5 separate regions of the Homo sapiens genome follow, and all the other regions are reported to be linked to region 3. Evidence: microRNA targets listed by miRTarBase, many of them from high-throughput screens and not tested one by one. Region 3 holds a microRNA gene; each other region holds the end of a gene's coding sequence.
Evidence for each region. The annotated mature microRNA hsa-miR-4295 reads CAGUGCAAUGUUUUCCUU and lies in region 3 at 2,159-2,176, shown strand. An mRNA with a match to its seed (bases 2 to 7 or 8) in the 3' UTR can be bound and repressed. Matches are read on the target gene's strand: a 7mer-m8 pairs with bases 2 to 8, a 7mer-A1 pairs with bases 2 to 7 and ends in A, and an 8mer does both.

Region 1: miRTarBase lists NKAPD1 as a target of hsa-miR-4295. Seed matches in the 3' UTR shown: 8mer at 2,059-2,066.
Region 2: the mRNA of HOXA5 is a reported target of hsa-miR-4295. Seed matches in the 3' UTR shown: 7mer-m8 at 4,275-4,281.
Region 4: the mRNA of NOM1 is a reported target of hsa-miR-4295. Seed matches in the 3' UTR shown: 7mer-m8 at 3,860-3,866.
Region 5: miRTarBase lists POP7 as a target of hsa-miR-4295. Seed matches in the 3' UTR shown: 8mer at 4,166-4,173.

Annotation. Positions count from the first base shown.
Region 1 is chr11:112,081,941-112,087,042 of GRCh38, reverse strand. It overlaps NKAPD1 (NKAP domain containing 1), which reads right to left. Exons shown (of 6, transcript NM_018195.4): 5 at 5,008-5,061; 6 at 1,893-4,578. The coding sequence ends at 4,071. It overlaps TIMM8B (translocase of inner mitochondrial membrane 8 homolog B), which reads left to right and starts at 287. Exons shown (of 2, transcript NM_012459.4): 1 at 287-403; 2 at 1,581-2,243. The coding sequence starts at 320. The coding sequence ends at 1,748. It overlaps SDHD (succinate dehydrogenase complex subunit D), which reads right to left and starts at 170. Exons shown (of 4, transcript NM_003002.4): 1 at 84-170. The coding sequence starts at 135. RefSeq lists enhancers at 1-169, 1-732.
Region 2 is chr7:27,137,199-27,142,288 of GRCh38, forward strand. It overlaps HOXA5 (homeobox A5), which reads right to left. Exons shown (of 2, transcript NM_019102.4): 2 at 3,854-4,887. The coding sequence ends at 4,637. It overlaps HOXA3 (homeobox A3), which reads right to left. Exons shown (of 6, transcript NM_153631.3): 2 at 2,885-2,988. It overlaps HOXA-AS3 (HOXA cluster antisense RNA 3), which reads left to right and starts at 3,166. Exons shown (of 3, transcript NR_038832.1): 1 at 3,166-3,341. RefSeq lists an enhancer at 2,312-2,890.
Region 3 is chr10:112,632,022-112,637,124 of GRCh38, forward strand. It overlaps MIR4295 (microRNA 4295), which reads left to right and starts at 2,149; the gene lies at 2,149-2,233. All of the region lies in intron 5 of VTI1A (vesicle transport through interaction with t-SNAREs 1A), which reads left to right. It overlaps LOC124902503 (a long non-coding RNA gene), which reads left to right. Exons shown (of 2, transcript XR_007062292.1): 2 at 1-5,103.
Region 4 is chr7:156,968,932-156,974,034 of GRCh38, forward strand. It overlaps NOM1 (nucleolar protein with MIF4G domain 1), which reads left to right. Exons shown (of 11, transcript NM_138400.2): 10 at 156-265; 11 at 598-4,245. The coding sequence ends at 772. Among named protein-coding and RNA genes, the nearest start is that of NOM1, 22 kb to the left of the region's middle.
Region 5 is chr7:100,706,550-100,711,649 of GRCh38, reverse strand. It overlaps POP7 (POP7 ribonuclease P/MRP subunit), which reads right to left. Exons shown (of 2, transcript NM_005837.3): 2 at 4,164-4,829. The coding sequence starts at 4,819. The coding sequence ends at 4,397. Among named protein-coding and RNA genes, the nearest start is that of POP7, 3.0 kb to the right of the region's middle.

The sequences.
Region 1 (5,102 bases), not on the chromosome of region 3:
CACCCGGCAGATGAGTCCTCACTTCCATCCCCTTCCCTGGCTGGAGGCTACGCTAAGCACCTCAGGGTGGGAAGACCCCTCACCTCGGCCTCCTAGGGCACCGCAAACGGCACTCAGCCTCCAGAGAACCGCCATCTCGTTCCTGAGGGCTCAAGGTCATCCACCAACCCGGAACCACTTAGGCGACAATTCCCACCCACGACGACGAAAGAAAACAGGGAAGAGGAAATGCTGGGTGAACCGGAAGTCGAGAGGCGGTGCACACCCGTCGCGCATGCGCAAACACAGCTGTCGGAAGGTGGCGAGCCTGAGGCGAACAATGGCGGAGCTGGGCGAAGCCGATGAAGCGGAGTTGCAGCGCCTGGTGGCCGCCGAGCAGCAGAAGGCGCAGTTTACTGCACAGGTGCGGGGACGGGGAGGGTGAAGGGAAAGGAAGTTTCACCTTCCTTGGTGGTCCTGGGCACGCTCGGAGGTCTGTACACTGGCGGCTCACTGGTGCTCGATCCCGGCTGCATCCCATTCCCCTCACGAAAGACAAAGTTATGGCTCTCCTGTCCCTGGTGACCGGTAGTGCTCAGGTGCCAGGTATATAAGCGTAGCGTGGAGAAAAGAAAAGGTGTAAAACAGGGAAGATTTGGGCGACGCAAGGGTACGGGAGACTAGTTAGCCGGCGACATGACTGGGCTGGCATTCGAAAGATCTGGGTTCTCATCCTCCCTCTGCTCCTTGCAGGCCACGTGCCCGTAGAAAAGATACTCATCCACTGTGGGTTTTGGTGTCGCCGTCACCCCACTGCCTCACTGGATTGTGAGGATCATATGCGACAATGTATTTGAAAACGACTAGAACATTATCGGAGGAAGGTGGACTCTGAAGTAGTCGCTGTAGACTATGGATGTAGAACAAGGGTTTGGAGCCCTTCGGACATGGTTCTAACGCGGCCTGACTTCTTGCTGGCTACATGACCTTGGACTACATAATCACGCCTCTTAAATGGGAGGTGATGACAGCTATCCTTGAGGACCTTAGAGAGAACTGATTTCTTAGTACCCAGCCTCACAAATAGTAAGCTCTTGGTAAAATGGTTTTTTCCTTTTGGGTGGGAGGAAGAGGGTGCTCGGATGACCAGCAAGAACCCTGGCTAGAAATCTTTGGGCCCTGAACATTCTAATGACAGTGCACATAATTTCTGTGCCTGTATGTGCATTTTTCTGGGGAGTGGATCCATAACCCCCAAAAGGTTAATGGAAGAATTACCTTGTCTAGGGGATAGGTTTGGAATAAAATGAGTGCAATAGTTTGGGAAAATTAATTGGTTCCCTAGTTGGTTCACAATGGTGCTAGCTACTTTGGGGAATATAAAAGGTTATTAGTCCTACCTGAGAATGTACAATCTGTAGGGACGAGGATCTGGATCAATATTGGTGACTAATTAGGAAATGAAGAAAGAGAAGAGCCCAAAGTGACTCCGTGGTTGATTTAAAGAATGGTTTTGTCAGGTGTCAAAAAGTGAGAAGTTAATAAACAAGAGTTAGGCCTATCTGCAGACCCCAATGGTTACTATTTTTCTTTCCTTTTAGGTGCATCACTTCATGGAGTTATGTTGGGATAAATGTGTGGAGAAGCCAGGGAATCGCCTAGACTCTCGCACTGAAAATTGTCTCTCCAGCTGTGTAGACCGCTTCATTGACACCACTCTTGCCATCACCAGTCGGTTTGCCCAGATTGTACAGAAAGGAGGGCAGTAGGCCATCCCCCAGGAGAATGACAGAAGCAAAGGACTTGTTACTAAGCAGATTTAAGGGTCAGTGGGGGAAGGCTATCAACCCATTGTCAGATCAGCATCAGGCTGTTATCAAGTCTGTTGGTGCTAAAAAGTAAAAGATGAAATGTTCAAAGAGTGAAATTTATTTATTTGGAATTCAGAAATTCCAGGTTGTATGACATCAGTTACTCAATAAGTGTGAATTCTCCAACTCTTCTTTTAATCCCATTTTAGAATTTAATATAGAGATCTCTGATTGGCAGGAACACTAGAAATAAATGTTCCATGGCCAGTAGTGCAAATGGGGGATTGTAGGTTTTGAAAAACCACCCTAAGCCATATTAAGGGGGTTGGAAGAACCATCGAAGCCTAAGGCATAGAAGAAAATTTGGGGTTAAGAAAGATGAAGAACAAAAAACAGCTTTATTGCTTATACATGACCAAGAAAAGGAAAACATGGCAAAAAAAAAAAAAAAAAGGCAAGATGTGTATTCCTTGCGAAAGAACAAGCCTGCTAACTTGGGAGGAAGGGAAGGTCAGGACCCAAATAGAGCCAATTTCCTGGAGATGGCCTGTTCTACTGGCACATTTTCCTGAGTCTGTGCTTAAAACCTTTCAGGTACTTTCAGGGCACAGAAACAATGCATGCTAAAAAATATATGGCCAAAGCTCCTTCCAACAAAGATTTAACTTGCTCCAGGAACAAAATAATTGCTTTAGGTTAAGAGGTAGTAATTAGAGACTATTCTTCTCCCTTTAGACCCCCACTAATCCCAAAAATAAAAATACACACCATGGAACACTGACAATTGAGTACCAAAGTATTAAAATTTAAAATAAATATCCCAAAAGGTAGCACCTGCTCATAGTTAAGGGATAGGGCACCTCTGTCCAACCATGTATTTTAAGACCAAGCACTTTATTAGAAATCTGTCCCGTAAAGAGAACAAATTTAGCAGTTAGAACTAAAAATACCAACTCATGGAATGTCATCATAGTTGTATCTACTGCTGGTGTCTTATACTGTCATGCTACTGTGAAGTAATTCCGTATTACACATCAGGAAAGTAAGGCCAGGAAGGTGAACTTACCTGCTCTGGGCCTCCTCATAACCAATGAGTGGCAGAACCAAGACCGAAAGTCTGAGTTTTCAAGCTTTTTACTCAGCCCATTAAGTGACAACCAGGAAAAAATAATACGTCACTTGATCTTTCTTCCCACAGTGAAAAAATGCACTTGCGTTCTGCCAGCCTTCTTTCAGTGATATGTTGGTTTCTTAAGAATTAACATACTAAGGATCACAGTATAGCAAAGGGAATTAATGTGGTCTCTGCTTGGTGCTTTAATCCAAAGGCAGACTGGGAAGAAGTGGATATGTCCCTGAGAAGCCTGTTTCATTTTGGAAATAATTCAACTTAGTTTCAGGGAAAACCTAAACTTCATGAACAGATTTAGAAATGAACAAGACAACATTTAAATGGCAGTTGCTGCCCTGAATCCAGAGTACCATTAGACAACATGATTATTTCCTAATTCTTCCCCATTTGGTACAGGATTATCTATGACAATTGAAGAAATAATTTGAACACAAGTCCATTTAGGCAAATATACAGCAATGGAACTAGAAAACCATTTACTATCCAATTACCATGTTTAGGCATATACTAAGTATAGCTATAGGCCCCATCCAGCAGGGAAATTTGCAAAAACTCTAGTCCCTTCTAATAAGTTGTCTATGGATGTTATCATGAAGGGAAAAGGTTTGTTCTTAGGCCCATGTCCTGATTAAGTAAACCGGACCACACCTGTGGGGTCAAAATATAGAAGGATCAAAGCACCAAGGCTAAAGACAAGTTAGTTGTGACACCTGCTATATAAACAGAGAGCAATACAGTGTTGCCTTGTCATACCATCCTACATGGCATTAGTTCCAATCCACCTCTTGATCCCAGCCCTTGACTTCCCCAAATTCAATATTCCGATTGGTGTACCCAGGTCACTATTGGATCCAGCTTTCTGGGTCCTTTAATTTGCTGTATATGCACTCTACACTAAACGTAATTAATTGCAAAAAAAAATAATCTCTTCAAGAAACCTTCATAACAAAATACCAGATTCCCTTTTAACAAGAAAAGGGGATCAAGCTTAACGCCAAAATAGAAGACAAGACGTCTGTCAGAACATACAGATGGCACAAGACAGCTCTGACCTCAGGCCCCGTGCTGAACAAGAGTCACTGGCAAAACCACAAGGAGTAAGAACTGTAAATATCCACAGTCATGTGGAAAACAAAAGTGTTTCCCATTTAGTCATCCTCTGAGCTCTCAGCAGACCTTTCATCTGTAGCTACTTTCCAATTTGTGCGTTTGTTTGTCCTCTCCTGTATTTCATTGTTGGCTACAGAGGTATGGGCTTTTTTCTCTCTCTTTTTCCTTTTGGTTTTCTTAGTGTCTCTTTCCTCACTTTCCTCAGAACTGCTGGATGCTGAATCATCTGAATGTGAAGTGTTACTTTCTGCCTCTAAGAATAAAGCAGGTTTTTTGAGAGACTTTTTCCTGGATTTTTTCTTGCGTTTATGTGGTTGTTTCCCTTTCCTTGTACCAGAAGCCCCAGTTTCTTCTGAGAACTCACTCGAGGAATCTGCTGTTATATCTGTGGCTTCCTTTTTGCTTTTCTTCTGTTTTTTGTGTGACCTTTTTTTCTGCTTTTTTTTGTGGGATTTCTTTGACTTCTTGTGTTTGCGGGATTCATGGGTAGATGACTTTACCTGGGGAGATGTTTTCTTCCCGTTGGTAATATCTTGCTGATCACTACTAATAAGAAAAGTTAAAAAATAGAAGCTTTTATGTAAAAAAAAAGCGTATTATTTTAATATTTTGCATTCTAGATTAAAAAATTGAGGTTAACATCTGAATTTTAAATAAGCACTTTAATGTATACTTTAACACTTTAATATTCTCATTGAGTTTTTGTTTCCTCATCTTTAAAATGAAGGTAAAAATTCTAAGCTGCCATACTGAGTTACTGTATGGAATACTATATATAAAAACCAAAATGCTTACAGACATGCCAAACATCAACCAGAGAATGGGAAAACAGGGATCACCTCCTAACTAAATCACCTATTGTTTCTCTAGCTACATTTTTGATGGCAAGTATATTCTTCGTAAAAGTTAAGAAATCAATTTATAATACAGATTTTGTACCATCTTAGTTTCTTTCAGTAAGCCTATTTTCCTTACCTGTCTGTTTCAAATTCTTCAGGGTATAACTCTTTATAACCACTGTGACCCCATCTGTAATATGACACATCACATGTATTGTTAAAGCAATGCAT
Region 2 (5,090 bases), not on the chromosome of region 3:
TTGGTGGGAAATTCTGTCTTGCTCTCTCAGAGCCGCCAACAATGAAGCAGGGGAAAGAGCAGGAGAAAGGGAATCTTGGCATAATGTTGTGAAATTAGACCATGGAAACCCTAACAAACCACTAAGTAAGTGTGACCAGAAGCTTCCTGTTGTATTTATAGTTCAGAAATATTGTCTCTTCAGCTTGTGGGAACAAACGAGCCCCCGCACATTGCCGCTGAGGAGGAGCACAGACACGCACTTCTGCCACCGGCTGAGGCTGGATGTCTTCATAAAGCCCTCAGTGACAGACATATTTTTTCTTAGTAAGTTCCTCTGCAAGAACAACCCAAAAGAATCCACAAAAGAAATAACTTATCTACAGAATGAGCAGAAAACCAGCCATCCTCTTTATTATGCTTCCTATGAAAATAGGAAGAAAGAAAAAAATCTTCCAGTAACACATAGGTCTGACTGCATGATGTATTTTTAAAGTCATTTTAATTCCATGTGGCCATGTGGGTTTGCCTGCTCTCTTAAATTCTACTTAAGTTTTGTGAAGATTAAAACAGACAGAAATAAGCAAGCTGACAATATTTACAGCCTGTAATTTTTCTCATTCCTTGGAAAGATTCTCTATGTTCTGTGGTACTGGATATGACTTCAACAGGCTTTCTGCTCATTCCCACACCCCAGGGTGGAATATGGCCATGAAGTAGTGTGGATATTTTCTGTGTAAGTAACTCAAATTAAACTGGCAGAATCCCCGTCACTCTTTTTTTTTTCTAATTTCAATCACCAAGAAATCACTCAAGCAAGATCACCAAATCAGTAACTAAAATGGAACCATAACGCAATATTTTCCAATAAGGAGCCCAAAATTCAGAGCAGCAAAACAAGGAATCCAGTATTCTCACAGACACATAACATTATAAAAGAGAACCCATACCCATGTAGAGTTTATATCCTTGTTCCCACTAAGATGTGGACACATCTTCTTGAATGCTGAAATACCAATGTTTACTTTAATAGGTTACACACAATGACTTCAGGATTCTTCACCTTGCCACTATTCATGAGAAGTAGCACTTGTGGGAGGGTTTTGATTTTTCAAAAAAACTTTCTAGGTTTTGCTTTCTGGACCTCTGACTTTAGGGACATCTGTTGGACTTATGTTGAGTGTAGGTGGCCTCTGCACAATAAGTTTATTGAAATTCCAAATCTATACTTTCAATTTTTTCACTTTAAGCACTTAATAGGTATCTTTACCAATTAATACTTGCTGAAAACTGCCCAGCTCCTAAGGAGAAAAGCAGATCCTATTTTTTGTTTCATTTCTGAATGCAGTAGGAGAATTTGGCTTAATTCCTAAAATAGGATTGGAGGAAATCTACTGGGTCCCTTGTGGGTACCCATCCAGAAAAAGATCCCAGGACAGGCCACAGTCCCCAGTCACTGGGCTTGGGTTTTGCCATTGAAGAATATGGGGGGTTGGGGCCAGAAGGGGTGACTGGGGCCAATATGGAATTGTGCCCAGGATAAACTTATTTCACCTTACTTCACCCATTGGTGCAATTTTGGAGACTGTTCTGGAAATCATAGATTATGTAAATTTCCTGGGATCAAACAGAAAGAGCAACTAACAAAAGAAAGGCGGAAATCTCCTACTGACAAAGGACCAATTTCTTCCCTAAACTACCGTTTATGATGTGTCAGGAAAAACAACCTAATGGCTCTGGGGACTTTTAAGTTGGGCACTGAAGACACCTCAATTTCCCCCAAAACTTTAGAGCACAGTTTGGAACAGAGAATTCGCCTGTATGTTGAGGGGGAGTGAATTTCTCCAATCTTAATGTTATCCAGGGGGCCGCCTAAGTTGCCTTCTGAGGGTCCTGTGCGTAGATGTTTTTAATTCTACAAAGAAGGAGAGGAACAGGAAAGAAGAGAGGGAGAAGAAAGGCAAAGCGGAAGAAAAGAAAGCGCTTTAACCCCTTTCAATTAGCCTGGGGATTCAAAGACTAAAGTTAAATCCGGCCATAAAGTTTATTGCTTCAGACTCACAAGCGGCTGAGAACAGTCCCGCCGAAATAAAAAGAACATGCAGGCAAACAGGGTTCAGGGCCTGGTCCCGGGTGCGGGGGAGGGGGTCCTGAACACCCCCCCACACCAGGGTGGGGATCCTTGGTCCTCAGGGTCCAGTGGGCGCTAGCAGCCCAGGATCCACCTTGCAACCCGGGGGCCCAGCCTGGAGGTGCAGCCCCAGCCTCGCCGGCCTCTGCCACCCTCCCGCTCTCGCGAGCTAGCCTGAAACCCGGCCCCGAAGGCCGCCGCCTCAATTCAGCCCTGCCAAATGACCCCGGCCCGCGAAGACATATTGCCACAGCCCCGTAAGGAATCCCGCCAGAGTCCGCCTCGGCCCTGCCCCGGCCTTTCTTTCAAACTCCTGAGCGCAGCGCGGCCCTCGGCGCCCGCGGCCGGCGCCCCACTGTCTCCCAGCCCCGACCCCAGGGCTCCGCGACCCCCAGGAGCTGGCCCCGGCCGGCCCAGCAATTGCGCGGGGGACTGGGGGTGCGGCCCTGCCAGGTCCCCACACACAGGCCCATTCGCACACAAAAATCATCTTTTTGCACGCCGGCGGGAGCAGCGGAAGTCATTAACATCCGCGGTTGTGCTGCAATTAAAGTTAGGCCTGGGGATGCGGCGCGGCCACAGGCGCTGCTCACTCTGCTGCCTCCGCAGAGTTGGCTCCTGGCGCTGCTCTTTTGGGCAGAGGGAAAGTTTGCTCTGCCTTTTCGAATTCAGAGGCAGCCTGAGTTATTGAACCAGAGAGAGAGAGAGAGAGAGAGAGAGAGAGAAAGTTTCCAAAGTACAAATAAACTTGAAAGCGCTCAGGAGGCGAGCTTACCTTAACTCGGAGGGAGCCATTTTTCAGAGAGTTTTGAGAACTTGTGGTTTGGACACTTCTGGACCTAAAATTGACAGTTTGAATGGCCAGGCGGCACACGTAGCCTGCAAAAGAGTCAAATGGAGTCCAGCGTTAGTGAGATTATATGTTATGTGGTATATAATGTTGGATGTCAACTCCCCAAAACCATAAAACTTACTTTAATGGCCCCACGTGACGTTTTATAGCCAGTGAGCCGATCTGTCTGTGCTATGGATGATTTTACGATCTAATTCATAGACAAAACCCTATTCATTTGGCACCCAAATGTCATATAGCCGGAACTGGGGCTTATAAAGTTTACTGTTTTATAACTTTTAAAAGGAAAGACGGCATCAGTGTAAGCAGTCGGTAAATGTGCAAATCTCTAGTTGCGCTTTAGCTGCTCTGAGGAGTTTCCCAATCGAGCTAGGATGGGGTAAGTACCTTCAATTTGTAGCAAATTAATTGTAGCAAAAGAAGCCAACTGGGTCCCGGGTGAAGAGTGGGGAAGGGGTGCTGGGATGGGTTAAGGGCAGAGGGTTTGGGGTCCACAGACAGACATAGCAGCGTCTTCAGCAAGTGGAGGCCTAGGACAGCCTTAGGAAAGAGGCAGGATCTGTGTGGCCTGAGGGCGGCTAACAAAGCCCTGGGTTTTTTCTCCTTTTTTCTTGCTCTTTCTCTCTTTTTTGTACCCAGCAAGTTAACTTGGTTTCCTCAGAGATGGACAGGGTGTTCTGGGGCTTTGGAACAGCCTACAGCTTTTTCCACCTTCTGCCCTGAACTTTGCAATGGGTCAGAGGTAGGGAAGCGATGGGACAGTGTTGGTATGAGGTCTCCCTGCACAGGTCATCTGCTCAGGTAGCCTCAGACCCAACAGCTTCCAAGACTGCACAGACAGACAGAAAAGCAGACAGAGCCGCTCACTATTTGGCACAAACCAGACCAAGAGAACTTACAATAGAAAGTTTATTTTTTGTTCCAGTCAGTATTTTTTCCTTAAAAACAAATACAAAAAAAAAAAAAAAAAAAAAAAAGCTGATCACAGTTTGCTTAAAACAGCCAGACTTGGACAATATTTGTAACTTTGTTCACAAAAACATACATCACTGAAGCTGCGCTTATAAGAGCCACTTCCAGAGTTCGTGCAAAGGGTCCTATAAAGGCACGCAGGGACACACCGCTTGGAGTCACAGTTTTCATCACAGAGTCACTAGTCACTACACGTCGAACAAGTTGTGTCTCATCAAGTCACCTCTACAACAGCATTAATTACACAAGGAATATAGGTAGTTTGAATAAAAATATCTTTAACAGCTTGGAGCTATTGAGACAGGAACACTTCCACGCACATGCACAGTTAAACAACTTGAGTGCAACACACAACATTGGCACTAAACGAGATTGAAGGGGGACTTTTTGTGTGTTTTTTTTTCTCTTTTCTTTTTTTGTTATAGTTACTTCAAGTAACACAGCTTGCTTCATATAAATAAGTTAAAACATCTATTTTTTTTCAAGACAAAGCCATTCAGGACAAAGAGATGAACAGAAAGCAGATCTACTTATACAGGCGCTATAATGGCAATAAACAGGCTCATGATTAAAAGATGAATTAGGGCAACGAGAACAGGGCTTCTTCACAGAAGGAACACAAGGGAGTTTCAGAAAGTCACCTTAGTACTGACACTACGCGGGATCCGCTAATACTGCTCAGTACTTTAAACGCTCAGATACTCAGGGACGGAAGGCCCCTCCTGCCGCGGCCATGCTCATGCTTTTCAGCTTATTATCTTTTTTCCACTTCATTCTCCGGTTTTGGAACCAGATTTTAATTTGTCTCTCGGAGAGGCAAAGAGCATGTGCTATTTCAATCCTCCTTCTGCGGGTCAGGTAACGGTTGAAGTGGAACTCCTTCTCCAGCTCCAGGGTCTGGTAGCGCGTGTAGGCCGTCCGGGCCCTTTTGCCTTCCGGGCCGCCTATGTTGTCTGCAATAGAAAAGTCAGCGGTTTAGCCACCAACTCCTGTCTTCCAAAGTCCGCCAGGGGGACAAGCTTGGGTCATGAGCAGGGAACCCAGGCGAAAAGCTCAACAAGTTCTGCCTACCAGCCCGCACACCCCTCCCGAATTTCCTTCTCTCTTCCTTTCTAGAAAGAAAACAATACGATTTGGACCCTGGGAACAATCTGCC
Region 3 (5,103 bases):
ATTGTAAAAATATACAACTTGGCCAGCCATGGTTATGTTGATCTTTTCTCCAAGTTAGTGTCCATCAGTTGGGGTAGTATTCTTCCCTAGGGGACATTTTGAACCTTTGTTGGGGCATTTTGGTTATCTCAGTGATAACTCAAGGGTAATAAACATCCTGGAATGTATTGCGTAGTCTTTTACAACACTCCCTGATCCTGCACAAACTCTCAAATGTCCTGCTGGTCATTTGTGAAGGTGCACACCCTATTTATAATTATCTGAACGTAGTTTTCCATATGAACACAAAGTATTTTTGTGTGGCTTGAACGTATGTGGAGTTTTCCAAGTATACAATAATTGTGTAAAATCAGGGTTTATTTTAAAAGAGTTCTTTACCATTGAAGGATAGACAGGATTATGCTACAGTAACAAATTAACCTAGAAATTCTGGTGGTTTAACACAACAAAGGTTTCTTTTTTATTTATGCTAAAAGTTGATCAAGCATTGACAGAGGGCTCTGCCCCACTTACTCAAGCATCCAGACTCCACCATGGGGATCGTTGCCAGCCACTGCGGGCAGGGATAGACGGGATTCACATACCAGCTCATCAATATTTTGACCCAAAGTTGAGGTACATCACTTCTGACTATAGTGTACCGGCCAGAAATAGTCATATAGTCCTACCTAACCATAAGGGGGTTAGGGAAGAGGAACAGGTGGAAAGTTGGGTGAGTACAGTGTTCATGGTAATGCGACTTGTAGTATTTGAGCTGTCATTACAGTGCTTGTGGATTGGTTTGCATATGTAGTGTCACATGCATGTTGATTGTACATGCATGTGACAGTTGTATAGGCACAAGCATGTACTTACTTAGTTGTATCTATTAGTATAGTAATGCCTGGGTATTTACAAATAGAAATACTTCTTATTTTGTTGTAAGTTATTTTCCTGTATTTATATTACAGCTAGGGCATTATATTGATTTCTTTTTTAAAAATCCTGTGTGAAATATTTGTTACAAAAAGGTGGTCTGGGCTGGGCGTGGTGGCTCATGCCAGTAATCCCAGCACTTTGGGAGGCTGAGGCGGGCAGATCACGAGGTCAGGAGTTTGAGAGCAGCCTGACCAACATGGTGAGTCCTGAGAGGAGAGGTCTGAAGGAGAGGAGAGGTCTGATGGTGATGAAAGCCACTTTTCTAGGTCTTCGGCATCATCTGGAACACATAGTGGGTCATAGAGAATTACGGGACTTACATAATAATAGTAAGAAGAAGATTAGCTCACATCCTTTGAGTACTCCGCATGTGCCAGGCACTGTGCTAAAACCCTGTAGGTTGATTCTCTGCTTTAAGCATCACCAGAAGCCTGTGAGGAAACCTCCGAATTCTCCATCTTACAGGAGAGAGCTGCTTTTTTCCTTCAAGTATAATGGAAAAGTTGTGGTCCCCAGAATTTCTGTCCTCCCTATGCTAGCACGAAGGGATAATTGATCTTCAGACATTGAAAAGAGATAGCAGGCAAAACACCGGGGCTGGAACAACACAGCAGGATACCCAGGGATCCCAAAAGGAAGTCAAAGAAGAGATTGGAGAAAAGCAGTGGTGAGGAAAAGGGCATTGCCCCCAAAAAGTAATGTCTCCCATGCAGAGAAGACTAGCATTACATAAATGTGTCACTGAGAGAGTTACCTTACCCTGACTCTGTCACCAAATTTTATTAAATGCCTCTCCTATTTCATCCTTGTTGGTGAACTTCCCAGTTCTTCTCTTATTTTATGGGCATAAGAGCTTATACTTTGCAGTTTAGTTAGTTAATTTATTTAAATAGCATTATCAAGTTGGCTCTAGACTAAAAAAAAAAAAAAGTCATGACTCACTCCAGAAAATACCATCAGTTAACAAACGGAAAAAAGGAAAAAGGATCACAGTTAACTCAGAATTATAAAACAATGGTTCTTTTAGGCTTCCTATTTTAGTGGTGTATCCAAACACCTTTTTCCCAGAGTAATAGAGCTTTCTTCCCTTTTGGTTGCAAGCATTATATGAGCAAGATTGGCCACTTTAAAAGTTTTGTTGCATCTTTACTTTCATTACTCAACCTTTATTTCTCCTCAGTCTTTATTCCATAAGAAATATGCTTCAATGGCTTATGCATTTAGAATTGACTTTGTGGAACAGTGCAATGTTTTCCTTGCCTGTGGCAAGACCACTTCGGTTCAAGGCTAAGAAACTAGACTGTTCCTACAGAGACCCTCTGGGTGACTCATCTCTTTTGAGATCCTGATTGTCCATTTTTTGGTTGGTGTTCTGGCAGCAGTGTGTGTTGCCCTGAAGGCACCCTCTCATATGGTGTTGACTACACTATGCTGTGCTATTTAATTCTTGTTTTGGATTGTGCCTCGAGTTTTAAGTCACTTGACAATACAGAAGGTTTCTTTCTCCAAAGATTATCAATATCATACCATTGCCTCTCGGTGGTTATACACACACACACAGACACACACACACATACACACACACACACACACACACACACACACACACGAATTTCATGTTTTCTTCCTTTTGAAACTAAATGTGATCTGTCTGACCTTTCTGAGGAGTCTGCTGCTTTTTCAGATTTATGTCCCTGTGACAAGGTGGTTTGGCAAGCTGTTTGTCTTAATCACTCAGCATCTCCATTAGACAAGCTGTTTAAAAATCTTCTACGTAATTATCTTTTTTGACTCTCACTCTTCCACATTCTTTTCTTTATTGTAAACTTTCTTATGACTTTTTTATATATCTGCCATGTTCTAAAAGGCATTTAAGCCTTCTTACACTGTTTTGTCTGCTTTTCATTAAGTTTGCCATCAATTTACAATCCATGCCCATTGCCTCCTTCACAATCTGAATACATAAACATGCATAATAAATAAACTCTGGGGTTGAATCCTGGACTGAGTGGCCAACATTTTTTCTGTGTCTTCCTTAACTGTTAAAATAGGCAGACAGAGGAGCATTAGAGGAGCTAATTCTAGGAGTCTCCTACGGACATTTGCCGGAGTTTTCACTGCCTTGTTGTTGCCTGTAACTGCAAAGTTCAGAAAGCTGGGGCTGGAGGTGCCTTTATTCATAATATGAGCCAGGCACTGTGCTCATTATTTGGGGGGAATAAAAGATAACACATTTCCTGCCTTCAAGCAGCTTTTACTCTGGTAAAGAGGATAATGCAGGCATGTAAATCTTGTGGAGATGAGACAGCGTGCTGAGGAATTTAAGGAGAAAGATCCCTTTGGTAAAGGCAGATGCAGAATTCATGGCAGATGTAGTGTTTTAGCAGAACCGTGAGCAGTCAGCAGGATTGTACGGATTGGAGATTGGTAGAGGCATTCCAGACAGGGAACCGCAAGGGTCAAAGCTCAGAGGTGGCCAAGTCTAGAATATATGCCAGAGAGAATTGAGAGAGAAGCCTGAAAGAGTATTTAGGCCTAAATTCTGAAAGGTTCTAAATGCTGGCTTAAACCTTGGATTTTTCTTGGTGAGCATGGCCAGAGTGGTGTTTTAGGAAGATTTTAGAAAGATCAAACAATCGAGACGTACTGATGGTTGTAGACAATGAAGACAGGGAAACCAGTTAAGAGGCTTTTGCACTGGTCTTTGTGAGAGGTTACAACAGTAGGAATGGAAAAGAAACAAGTATGAGAGATAATTCAAAGAAAGATTTGAGAAAACCCGATGACTGGTTCAAAATGGGAAGCAAAATAAAGGAAGATTCAAACTGAGTTGATATGTGTGAGTCCCAAGAGACCCACTTGATTCGCCCACATTTAGCTGATGGGAAGAGGCACATAGCAAGAAGCTGTGATTTTTATTCATGCCCACTGAATTTAAGGGATGAGTGAACTACCCAGCATGTAATAGGAAATGGGGAGTAAAACTTGGAATAGTTTTTAACAGATTAAGCATAGAAACAGAGATGATATTTAAAAACCATGAAAGTGAATGAGGATCTCAAAGGAGACTGTTTGGAGAATGTAGGAAAGAAATACAAAGTAAGAACTTGAACTGCCAATAATTATGGGTTGAGATGAGGCAGCACCTGCAAGGGAGAGAGATCCGAGGGTTGGGCTCTGAATGCTTTGCTCACAGTAGGCACTCTGCACAGATGCATTTGTGGATGAATACCTGTCAAAGTCAAGGCTGACTCTTTCACTACAAACTTTGCCATCCCATAAATCTTTATATAAGGGCACTTTGTAGACCAATAATCTTGAGCTCATCAACTCACATAGTTGACATTCAATACCAGGGCTTTATATAAAGGTATACAATTGCAATTAATATTACTTGTTATTTTTACCTATTGTAATAGCTCATTAATTTTCTCCTGCCATTGGATGGTGTGTTATGGGTGGGTATGGTGAGTATCCCATTTTGTCAAATAGATTATAAACTCCAGCCGGGTGCAGTGGCTCATGCCAGTAATACCAGCACTTTGGGAGGCCGAGGTGGATGGATCACAAGGTCAAGAGATCGAGACCATCCTGGCCAACATGGTGAAACCCCGTCTCTACTAAAAAAAATATATAAAAATTAGCTGGATGTGGTGGTGCGCACCTGTAGTCCCAGCTACTTGGGAGACTGAGGCACGAGAATTGCTTGAACCTGGGAGGCGGAGGTTGCAGTGAGCTGAGATTGCACCACTGCACTCCAGCCTGGGTGCCAGAGCAAGACTCGATCTCAAAAAAAAAAAAAAAAAACTTCAAGTGTAGAGGTAGTATCTTTTGTTCTTTGGTGTATTACTAGAGGGTGCAGTCAGTATAAATTAAATGCTAGAGATCAATTATTCTCTTCCAAAGTAAAGAGAAAATAAACAACCATAGCAAAACAAAATGAAACAACCAACAACAAAAAACAGTCATTAAGATTCATTGTCATGGATATAGATAGATCAGAGGAAACATTTCACATTTCTTATGTATCAGAAGGCCAGTCTATTCTTCTAGAACCTAGAGGCCTCTGTCAACTCATTCTATCTCAGAATAGCCTTAACCAGACAGATATATTTAACTTAAATAATGACATGAAGGCTTTTTTGAATGGTTCCAATAGAAACATTAGAAATTGTTTATTCCTAA
Region 4 (5,103 bases), not on the chromosome of region 3:
GTGTTCATTTCTTAGCTCTGGAAATAGCTTCTTAAATCGGGTAGAGTGGGGGAAGGGGGGAGATTAATTTTTACTCTAATTAACTATATTACAAATCATTGAAAAAGTTGGCTAAATCAGTGTAACTTTATTTTTCTCCATGTCCTGACCATTAGGTAGTTGAATTCAGTGAATTGGACAAACCCAGAGTCCGTTTTTTACGAAAAGTATTAAGTATCCTATTAATGGAAACAGAAGTTGAAGACCTCAGTTTAATTTTCACAAGGTATGTGCCCCACCCTTTCCGACGAGACATGGAAGAGAAATGAAGAGATTGTTTTCACTTGTGTTGATTTACAAACACAAGGTTGTACTATACGTGTAGCTTAATCTTTTCGGTTTTATTTTTAAGCTGGTATGCATTAGATCTGGGGAATAGAAACTTGTCTGCTAGCAAACTAACAATGATTGTTAATAATAAAATATGTTAAGAAGTTCTTAATTGAGAATTTTATTTTTAAAAGAAACTGGTTATGTCTCACTATGCGAGATACCCAGGATTGAGATCTAGGAGAGGCCAGCTCAGCCCTGACATGTGTTTATACGATTCCTTTCCAGAGTATCTGACAACCCAAAGCTGGGGGTGTTACGTGAGGGTTTGAAGCTTTTCATCAGCCACTTCTTGCTAAAGAACGCACAGGCCCACAGAAGCGCCGACGAAGCCAACGTGCTGAGAGAGAAAGCTGACCTTGCAACGAAGTGTCTGCAAGGAAAAGCTTCCCTGAGAATGTAGTCAGGGAAGGAAGGAGGGCAGGTGGCCCTTTGACTGTAAAATGTCCTTGGTAAACCCAAAGGCTTATTCTGTTGCCTGCGTGTGAATGTTTGGTAGAGCTATATCATTGTCTGTTAATGTATTATATTTTGAGATTTTTTTTGATCTAAGGTTTTATTGTTTGTATTTCAAGCCATTTTCAAATAACTATCTTGGGGGTGAGAGGAGAAGGAGGGAGGGAAAAGGGGTCAGGCACACTGGACAGGGTTCTCTAAGCAGTGAGGCTGGTGTGTATGATTGTCTTAAAATTTTTTAATAGATATGGCCGAGCGTGATGGCTCACCCCTGTAATCCCAGCACTTTGTGAGGCCAAGGTGGGCGGATCACTTGAGGCCAGGAATTTGAAACCAGCCTGGGCAAAACCCTGTCTCTACTAAAAATATAAAAATTAGCCAGGCATGATGGCACATGCTGGTAATAGCAGCTACTGAGGTGGCTGAGGCACAAGAATTGCTTGGACCCTGGAGGTAGAGGCTGCAGTGAGCCAAGATTGTACCACTGTACTCCAGCCTGGGCTGGACAGTGAGACTTTTGACAGTGAGACTGTCAAAAAAAAAAAAAAAATTAATAGATAAAACAGGCCACTAGAGGGTGCAGTTATAAAGAAATTGATGAGGTTTTTACCTTTTTAAAATATTGGTTAGAAGTTCAAAAACCATCCCTTAAAGGTGATTGTTTTTTTGAGACAGAGTCTTGCTCTGTCACCCAGAGTGGAGTGCAGTGTCCTGTAATCTCAGCTCACTGCAACCTCTACCTCCCGGGTTCAAGCGATTCTCCTGCCTCAGCCTCTTTAGCTGGGACTACAGGCGCACGCCACCACGCCCGGCTAATTTTTGTATTTTAGTAGAGATGGGTTTCACCATGTTGGCAAGGCTGGTCTTGAACTCCTGACCTCAGGTGATACACCCATCTCGGCCTCCCAAAGTGCTGGGATTACAGGCTTGAGCCACCACGCCCAGCTTAAATGTGATTCTTGATACTGTTTTAAGTATTTAGGTTGCAATTAACTTTGGCAAAGTCAGTCGACATAAGCCCTGTGGATATGGCCTTATGTACACTGTAATGCAGACAGGTGCTTTTCATCATTCATGTAACATTCTCACACAGTTGAGGATATTCATCTCCTCACCAATTCCAGATTGTAAATGTACCATCTTAAACAACTCTGAGGTCACCAAACAGTAGTTATTTGACTGTTAATAGGTGCTACTTGCTTGCAAGGATTTGGAGATGTAAACATGAAGAAAATATAGTTACTGCCTGCAAAGAATTAACATCCGTCTAGTGGGAGAAACAAACACACCCCACTCACTAAGTATGGAAAACTGATTCTGGGAGGAAGCAGAAATGTCCCTAGATAACAGCATGTATTGCAGATACCCAAATGTTTATTGTTTTCTCAGCCCTTCAATTTTGCTTTTCTCTCTCAAATGCTACAGACTCAATTTAAATCTTACCTTTGATTGTTGAAAAAAGTCACTAAGATGTGAATACAGAATAGACATTGAGAGGTTATATATGTCCAAAACTCATCTGTCCAGCAGTCACCGTCCTCTTCAGAGTGGTCACGTTGGGCAGATGGGCACAGGTGCTGGTGATGCCTCTCCTGGGCAAAACGCCCCATTTGTGGCACTTTCAGATACTATTTATTTACTTTTTAAGAGAGAGACAGGCTCACTCTGTCACCCAGGCCAGAGTGCAGTGGCACGATCATAGTTACCGCAGCATCAAATTCCTGGACTGAAGCGGTCCTTTTGCCTCAGCCTCGCGGATAGCTAGGACCACAAGCAGTAGAGACAAGATCTCCGTATGTTATACAGGCTGGCCTCAAGTGATCCTCTTACCTTGGCCTCCCAAACACCGGGATTATAGGCGTGAGCCCCCGTGCCTGGCCTCAAATTTTATTTTAGCTCGACCCTATGGCAGTTTGTGTTTGGAAATCGTGATGTGAAGTCATCAGTATCTGTGCATATCCCTAAACTAATGGTTTAAGCTTTGAAGCATGCGCAAGCAACATGAACAACTGAATACAGAAAGTAACTGAAAGCAGCACAGAGACTGTGTCGTCCCTACAGACTTCTAACCCTGCATTCAGCAACATCATTCGACCCGAAGCCAGATTCAAACCCTATGTCTTCTAGCAGGTTCTGAATTTAGAGGACAAATAAGGTGACAGGTACTAAGAGAAGAGTGAATTAAGTGAAAATCTTCCCTTTGTTAAGGAGCTTTTTAACAAGAGTGTCTTTGCTGGGTGGTGATTGGGATGTAACAGATCAGTTCTACTGGACTTGTAGCTTGATAGTGAAATAAGGAGCTTGGGCTAAGGTATAAATCAACACACTGCTTCCTTCCTCCAGAAGGTCTTACTGTGAAGGAAAAAATGTCAGTTGAACTAAATTGTGCTTCACGCCTCGGTAGATTTGCATTCTGATGCAAGCCCCCAACCTCACGGACCAAGAGGATCCCTGGCTGCCTGTGAATGGCCCACATTTGAGTGGTGCTAACTTGATGTGAGTAGGCATTAATTATGGGTGCGGCTACTAAGATGGGAAAAACTATCACGACAGTGGCACCACCTGATTTCATGATGTACCATATGCAGTAACCCATGTTTGAGGTACAGAATTGAAGCTGATTTTTCTGCAAAAGATGAATTTCTATAAACAATCCCATTTTTATATTTTATTATTAAAACAAAAATACCTCTCTTTGCTAGAGAGTTATATGTATGACTTAAATTATTAGCTATGGTTTGCATTTAGTACATGGCAGATTGCCTGTAAGTCTGTTCATTTTAACAACATACAGGGCTGGGCACGGTGGCTCACGCCTGTAATCCCAGCACTTTGGGAGGTTGCGGGTGGATCACTTGAGGTCAGGAGTTCGAGACCAGCCTGGCCAACATGGCAAAACCCCGTCTCTATGAAAAATATAAAAATTAGCTGGGCATGGTGGCAGGCACCTGTAATCCCAGCTACTCGGGAGGCTGAGGCAGGAGAATCGCTTGAACCTGGGAGGCGGATGTTGCAGTGAGCAGAGATCGTGCCATTGCACTCCAGCCTGGGAACAAGAGTGAAACTCTCAAAAGCAGAAACAAAAACCCAACATATATGGGCTGTTAGATAGTAATTGTAATTTCGTATAAATAGTAAATGAGTACATCTTGATTAAAAGCTATGAATTCAGAATTGCTTTTAAATATATAGGGGGTTTTTTGAAATTTATTACAGTGCAATTGAAAATACACTTAAAATACTGCAGGATGCTTAGTGCTCAGTGTTATGTATGAACTTGTGGACTTTACAATGCAGGTTGAGAACTGCTAATGTATAGAATGACTAAACAGCTGTCTTTCAGGGTATCATTTTTAAAGGTATAAGGAACAAACTTTAATGTATTGAAATGCATAAATAAAATTTATTTTTTATATTTTGTTTAGAGTAACAGTGAATGTTTATTTTGAAAGACCAGCTTGGCCGGGCACGGTGGCTCACACCTATAATGCCAGCACTTTGGGAGGCCGAGGCAGGTGGATCACCTGAGGTCAGGAGTTCGAGACCAGCCTGGCCAACATGGCAAAACCCTATCTTTACTAAAAATACAAAAATTAGCCAGGCATAGTGGCAGGTGCCTGTAATCCCAGCTACTCGGGAGGCTGAGGCAGGAGAATCACTTCAACCCAGTGGGGGGAGGTTGCAGTGAGCTGAGATTGCGCCATTGCACTCCAGCCTGGGCACAAGAACAAGCCTCTGTCTCAAAAAAAAAAAAAAGCTTTGGTGGTAAACTGAGGTCTATACCTTTCCTTTACCTTTTAAAGAAGGCTACTTAGCTCTATGATTTAGGAAGAAAGATTCATTCTCTCCACCCCCAGAGAGAGAGAACGCCCAGGAGGTGGAATGTTAACCACTGGAGAACTTGGAGAGGTTTATGCGGGTGAAGTGTGTTCTTGGAACTTTTCTGTAAGTGTATAATTGTTTCAAAATAGATGTTTTGAAAGCATTCATAATTCAGAACTCATTCTATAAAGATCTAAAATATACTATTCTTTTACAAAAGTAAGCAAACATTCAAATCACCTTTGCCTCCTTAAAAAATTGCCTAGGCCTTAGCGTACATCTGCCAAGATTTACCTTAACTTTAGGGTGGGTTGGTTTCCTTCAGCTTGGTCAGGTGACCGCCTTAGCTCCCTGTCGCACTACCTGCATTGGCAGGGGAGGGTGGGAGAGCTGGAGAACGGAAGGAGGGAAGGTCCTGTCATTGACCGTGCTCAGGGGCTTCAGTATCAAGAACTG
Region 5 (5,100 bases), not on the chromosome of region 3:
AAACAAATAGGCTGCAGGAGGGAACTGCCAAAACAAACCAGATGGGAAAGGCTGCCTGCCACCACCTCTGCTGGGCTCAGGCCCGGAGCACATACGTGCAGGGAGACACAGCTCCATCCAGCTTCCTGCCGGCTCCCCGCTCGGCTACTGGGGGGCTCCCGGGCAAGGAAGCCTTGCAGTCAGGCTGATGGAAAGGATGTGGCCTGATAGAAATGTCCGCAGCCAGCCAGGTACGGTGGCTCACGCCTGTTATCCCAGCACTTTGGGAGGCCGTAGGCGGGCAGATCACGAGGTCAGGAGATCGAGACCATCCTGGCCAACATGGTGAAACCCCGTCTTTACTAAAAATACAAAAATTAGCTGGGTGTGGTGGTGCGCACCTGTAATCCCAGCTACTCAGCTACTTGGGAGGCTGAGGCAGGAGAATCGCTTGAACCAGGGAGTCGGAGGTTGCAGTGAGCGAAGATCACGCCACTGCACTCCAGCCTGGCGATAGAGACTCTGTCTCAAAAAAAAAAAAAAAAAAAAGAAATGTCTGCAGCCTTGTCTCCCAGTACCTCTTGCTTTCTAGCCACCTCGAGTCCCTCCAGTCCCAGAACGTAGCTGCCTATTCATTAATCCCCTCCCTGCCCACTGTTTTTTGAGACAGGTTCTTGCTGTTTCACAAGCCCTCAGTCACGGCTTACTGCAGCCTCAACCTCTTGGGCTCAAGCAATCCTCCCACCTCAGCCTCCTGAGTAGCTGGACCACAGGTGCACACCGCCAAGCCCAGTTAATTTTTAAATTTTTGATAGAGACAAAGTCTTACTCTATTGCCCAGGCTGGTCTCAAACTCCTGAGCTCTAGCAATTTTCTCTCTTCGGCCTTCCAAAGTGCTGGGATTACAGGCATGGCCACCATTCCCAGCCAAATCCACCCATCTCCCCGCCCCACTGTGATCTCTCTGCCAAATATGCCATCTCCCTTCTTTTCTGCCTGGCAAACTCCTATACATCCTTCAACACCCAGATCAAAGGTGAGTGAAACCATTTTGGGTCCCACCAGGAAGTTATTAGCCCTTTCCATCTCCACATTTCCTTATCATTGCTACTCTTATGTCTCACACATCTTACTCATTCACAAAAAATTATGTGTCCACCTTCCCAATTAGATGGCGAGCTCCTTGAACATAGGGACCATTTCATACGCAGATGCCAGAGGAAGGGATTTTGATGAATTAGAAGACTGATCTTCAGACCTCCAAACCAAACTACCTTCCTTGAATTAGAGTGAAATTCTGTTCCTAACCTGTAAATCAGAGGCTCTTAAACTCTTATGACCTCAAACGGTAAAAAACACAATGTACATCCTATTATAGTACATATATATATATATATATATATACACACATGCCTAACTGAAAAATTTGCTGGCCAGGCCTAGTGGCTCACACCTGTAATCCCGGCATTTTGGGAGGCTGAGGTGGGTGGATCACCTGAGGTCAGGAGTTTGAAATCAGCCTGGACAACATGGCGAAACCCCATCTCTACTAAAAATACAAAAATTAGCCAGGCGTGGTGGCACACGCCTATAATTCCAGCTACTCAGGAGGCTGAGACAGGAGAATCGCTTGAACCTGGGAGGCAGAGGTTGCAGTGAGCCAAGATTGTGCTACTGAACTCCAGCCTAGGAGATAGAGACTCTGCCTCAAAAAAAACAAAAACATCTGCAATAAAAACACCACCATTTAAGTTGCACTTTTTTTAAAACTTGGGTTCTTTTTTCTTTTTCTTTTCTTTTTTTAGACAAGGTCTTGCTCTGTCGCCCAGGCTGGAGTGCACTGGCGTGATCTCAGCTCACTGCAACCTCCCCCTCCTGGGCTCAGGTCATCCTCCCACCTCAGCCTCCCAAGTAGCTGGGACCACAGTTTTGTGCCACCATGCCCAGATAACTTTTTATATTTTTTGTAGAGATGGGATTTCGCCATGTTGCCTAGGCTGGTCTCGAACTCCTGCGCTCAAGAGACTGACCTGCCTCGGCCTCCCAAAGTGCTGGGATTATAGGCGTGAGCCACCACACCCAGCCTTATTTTTTTTGTTGTTGTTTTTGTTTTTTGAGACGGACTCGCTCTGTCGCCCAGGCTGGAGTGCAGTGGCACAATCTCGGCTCTCTGCAACCTCCGCCTCCCTGGTTCAAGCGATTCTCCTGCCTCAGCCTCTAGAGTAGCTGGAACTACAGGCATGTGCCACCACGCCTGGCTAATTTTTTGTATTTTTAGTAGAGACAGGGTTTCACCATGTTAGCCAGGATGGTCTTGATCTCTGGACCTCGTGATCTGCCCGCCTCAGCCTCCCAAAGTGCTGGGATTACAGGCGTGAGCCACCGCGCCTGGCTTTTTCTTTTTTTAAGAAGCTGTGACCCACAAATGGGTCACAACCCGCTTTGATAAACATTGCTTTAGTTGACTTTAGTTTGATAAATATGAAAAATCAGGTCATCCCACAAATATCCAAACAGAAAGTATTACCTGTGTGCCCAGTAATTATTTGGAGTGAGGGGTTCCTTCGCCACTGGAGCAGCCCAGTGAGAAGGGTCTGAAGGCCGGGCGCAGTGGCTCATGCCTGTAATCCCAGCACTTTGGGTGGCCAAGGCAGGCAGAACGCTTCAGGTCAGAAGTTTGAGACCAGCCTGGCTGACATGGTGAAACCCCTTCTCTACTAAAAATACAAAAAATTGCAGGGCATGGTGATGGATGCCTATAGTCCCGGCTACTCAGGAGGCTGAGGCAGAAGAATCCCTTGAACCCAGGAGGCAGAGGTTGCAGTGAGCTGAGATCGCACCACTGCACTCCAGCCTGGATGACAGAGTGAAGCTGTCTCAAAAAAAAAAAAAAAAAAAAAAAAGGGTCTGAAGGGCTCTGCACCTGAAAGCCCGGGTATCATCTAGGTAGGCCCTGCAGGTCCAGGAATTAAATGAAGCCACTTGTCAGTCCCTACCATGGAGCCTGACACTAAGAAGGTCCTGAAGTCTTAGTTTGCTTCCTTTTTTTTTTTTTTTTTTTTTTTGAGATACGGTCTTGCTGTGTCAGCAAGGCTGGAGGAGTGTAGTGCGGTGATCACAGCTCACTGCAGCCTTGAACTCCTGGGCTCAAGCGATCCTCCTGCCTCAGCTAACGAGGTAGCTGGGATTATAGGTGCAAACCACTACACCCATCTAGTTTTCAAAAATTTTTTGCATTTGGGAGGCCAAGGCGGGCAGATCACTTGAGGTCAGGAGTTCGAGAACAGCCTGGCCAACATGGTGTTTCCACTAAAAAAATACAAAAATAATTAGCTGGGCGTGGTGGCACTCACCTGTAATTCCAGCTACTGGGGAGGATGAAGCAGGAGAATCACTTGAACCCAGGAGCCGAACGTTGCAGTGAGCCAAGATGGCACCACTGTACTCCAGCCTGGGTGACAGAGCAAGACTTCATCTCAGAAAAAAAAAAAAAGTGGTTTTTTTGCATAGACTAGGTCTCAGTATGTCATCTAGATTGGAGTGCAGGTGGCATGATCATAACTCACTGCACCTTCAAACTCCCAGGCTCAAGCACTCTTTCCGCCTCAGCCTCCGCCAGTAGCTCAGACTACAGGCTGGAGCCACTGCACCCAACTAGAAGACGAAAATCTTTAAAACAAACATTGGGGCTGGGCACGGTGGCTCACGCCTGTAATCCTAGCACTTTGGGAGGCCGAGATGGGTGGATCACAAGGTCAGGAGATCGAGAACATCCCTGCTAACACGCTGAAACCCTGTCTCTACTAAAAATACAAAAAAATTAGCCAGGGTGTGGTGGCAGGCACCTGTAGTCCCAGCTACTCAGGAGGCTGAGGCAGGAGAATGGCGTGAACTCAGGAGGTGGAGCTTGCAGTGAGCCAAGATTGCACCACTGCACTCCAGCCTGGGTGACAGAGTGAGACTCTGTCTCAAAAAACAAACAAACAAACAAACATTGGGATGACTGGGTTTCTGCACTGTACTGTTTTGTTACACTGCTCATAGCATAATCTATGCTCTCTATAGAGGCAAGAAACACTTGGGTTCCCCTTTCACCTAGATACCTGTAGCGTTTCCTACCATCCCTATTCAGGCACACACAGAATTTACACAGGAAAGAATCAGTGGCAGTGGGATGGCAGGACACTAGTGCAACAGGATTTTTTATTTATATGGCAATAGTTACAGACCGCATACACACACTCAGGAAGGCCCACTAACTGGGCCCACCAAGAGACAATTACCCCCACCCTCAATGCAGAGTCCTTTGGGCTTCCAGGGAACAGGCCTTTTCTTACATGGCTCTGGTCCGAGGTCCAGTACTCAGCATGCGAAGAGCCATATCACGGAGGGGATAAGTGGAGGAGTGTCTTTTCAATTACTTGGGTGTGACCCTGAAGACTCGGATGTGGATGGCTGAGTTGTTGCGGATCCGAGTCAGTGGCTCCCGTGTGTCGGTCTCTGGCTCCAGCTCATCAACAAGCTCCACGGTGGAGGTATTGGCAGCCACCTGCAAGGACCCGAAGCTGCCCGCCTGCAGCTGCAGCGCGATGTTGATGGCGCGGTTGATGGCCAGGCCCAAGCCGTGAATGTAGATCTCAGAGCACGCGTTCTGACCCCGGGCCCCTCCGTCCAGCAGCTTCTGGCAGCGGGCCAGCTGGGCCTTAAAGTCCGTCTTCATGTTGACATAAATGTCATTGGGTCTCCGGGGCAGGCGGCTGGGAAGCCTTTTCCTAAGGGTGTATTCCACTGGATCCAGTTCAGCCTCCACAGCACCGCGGGGCTCTCGGTTTTCTGCCATGCTGTGTGCCCTGGCGTGGGAAAGGGACGCGATCAGAGGGCTCAGAGGGACCTCGAAGCCTTTCCTACCCCTTTTCCTGTACAAAGGGTGCACCTGGCCGGGCAGTGGCTCACGCCTGTAACCTCAGCACTTTGGAAGGTCGAGGCGGGAGGATCACTGGAGCCCGGGTGTTTGAGATCAGCCTGGGCAACATAGCAAGACCCTGTCTTAAGAAAAATTTTTTTAATTACCCGGGCCGAGGGGGGAGGATCGCTTGAGATCGGGAGTTCGAGGCTACAGTG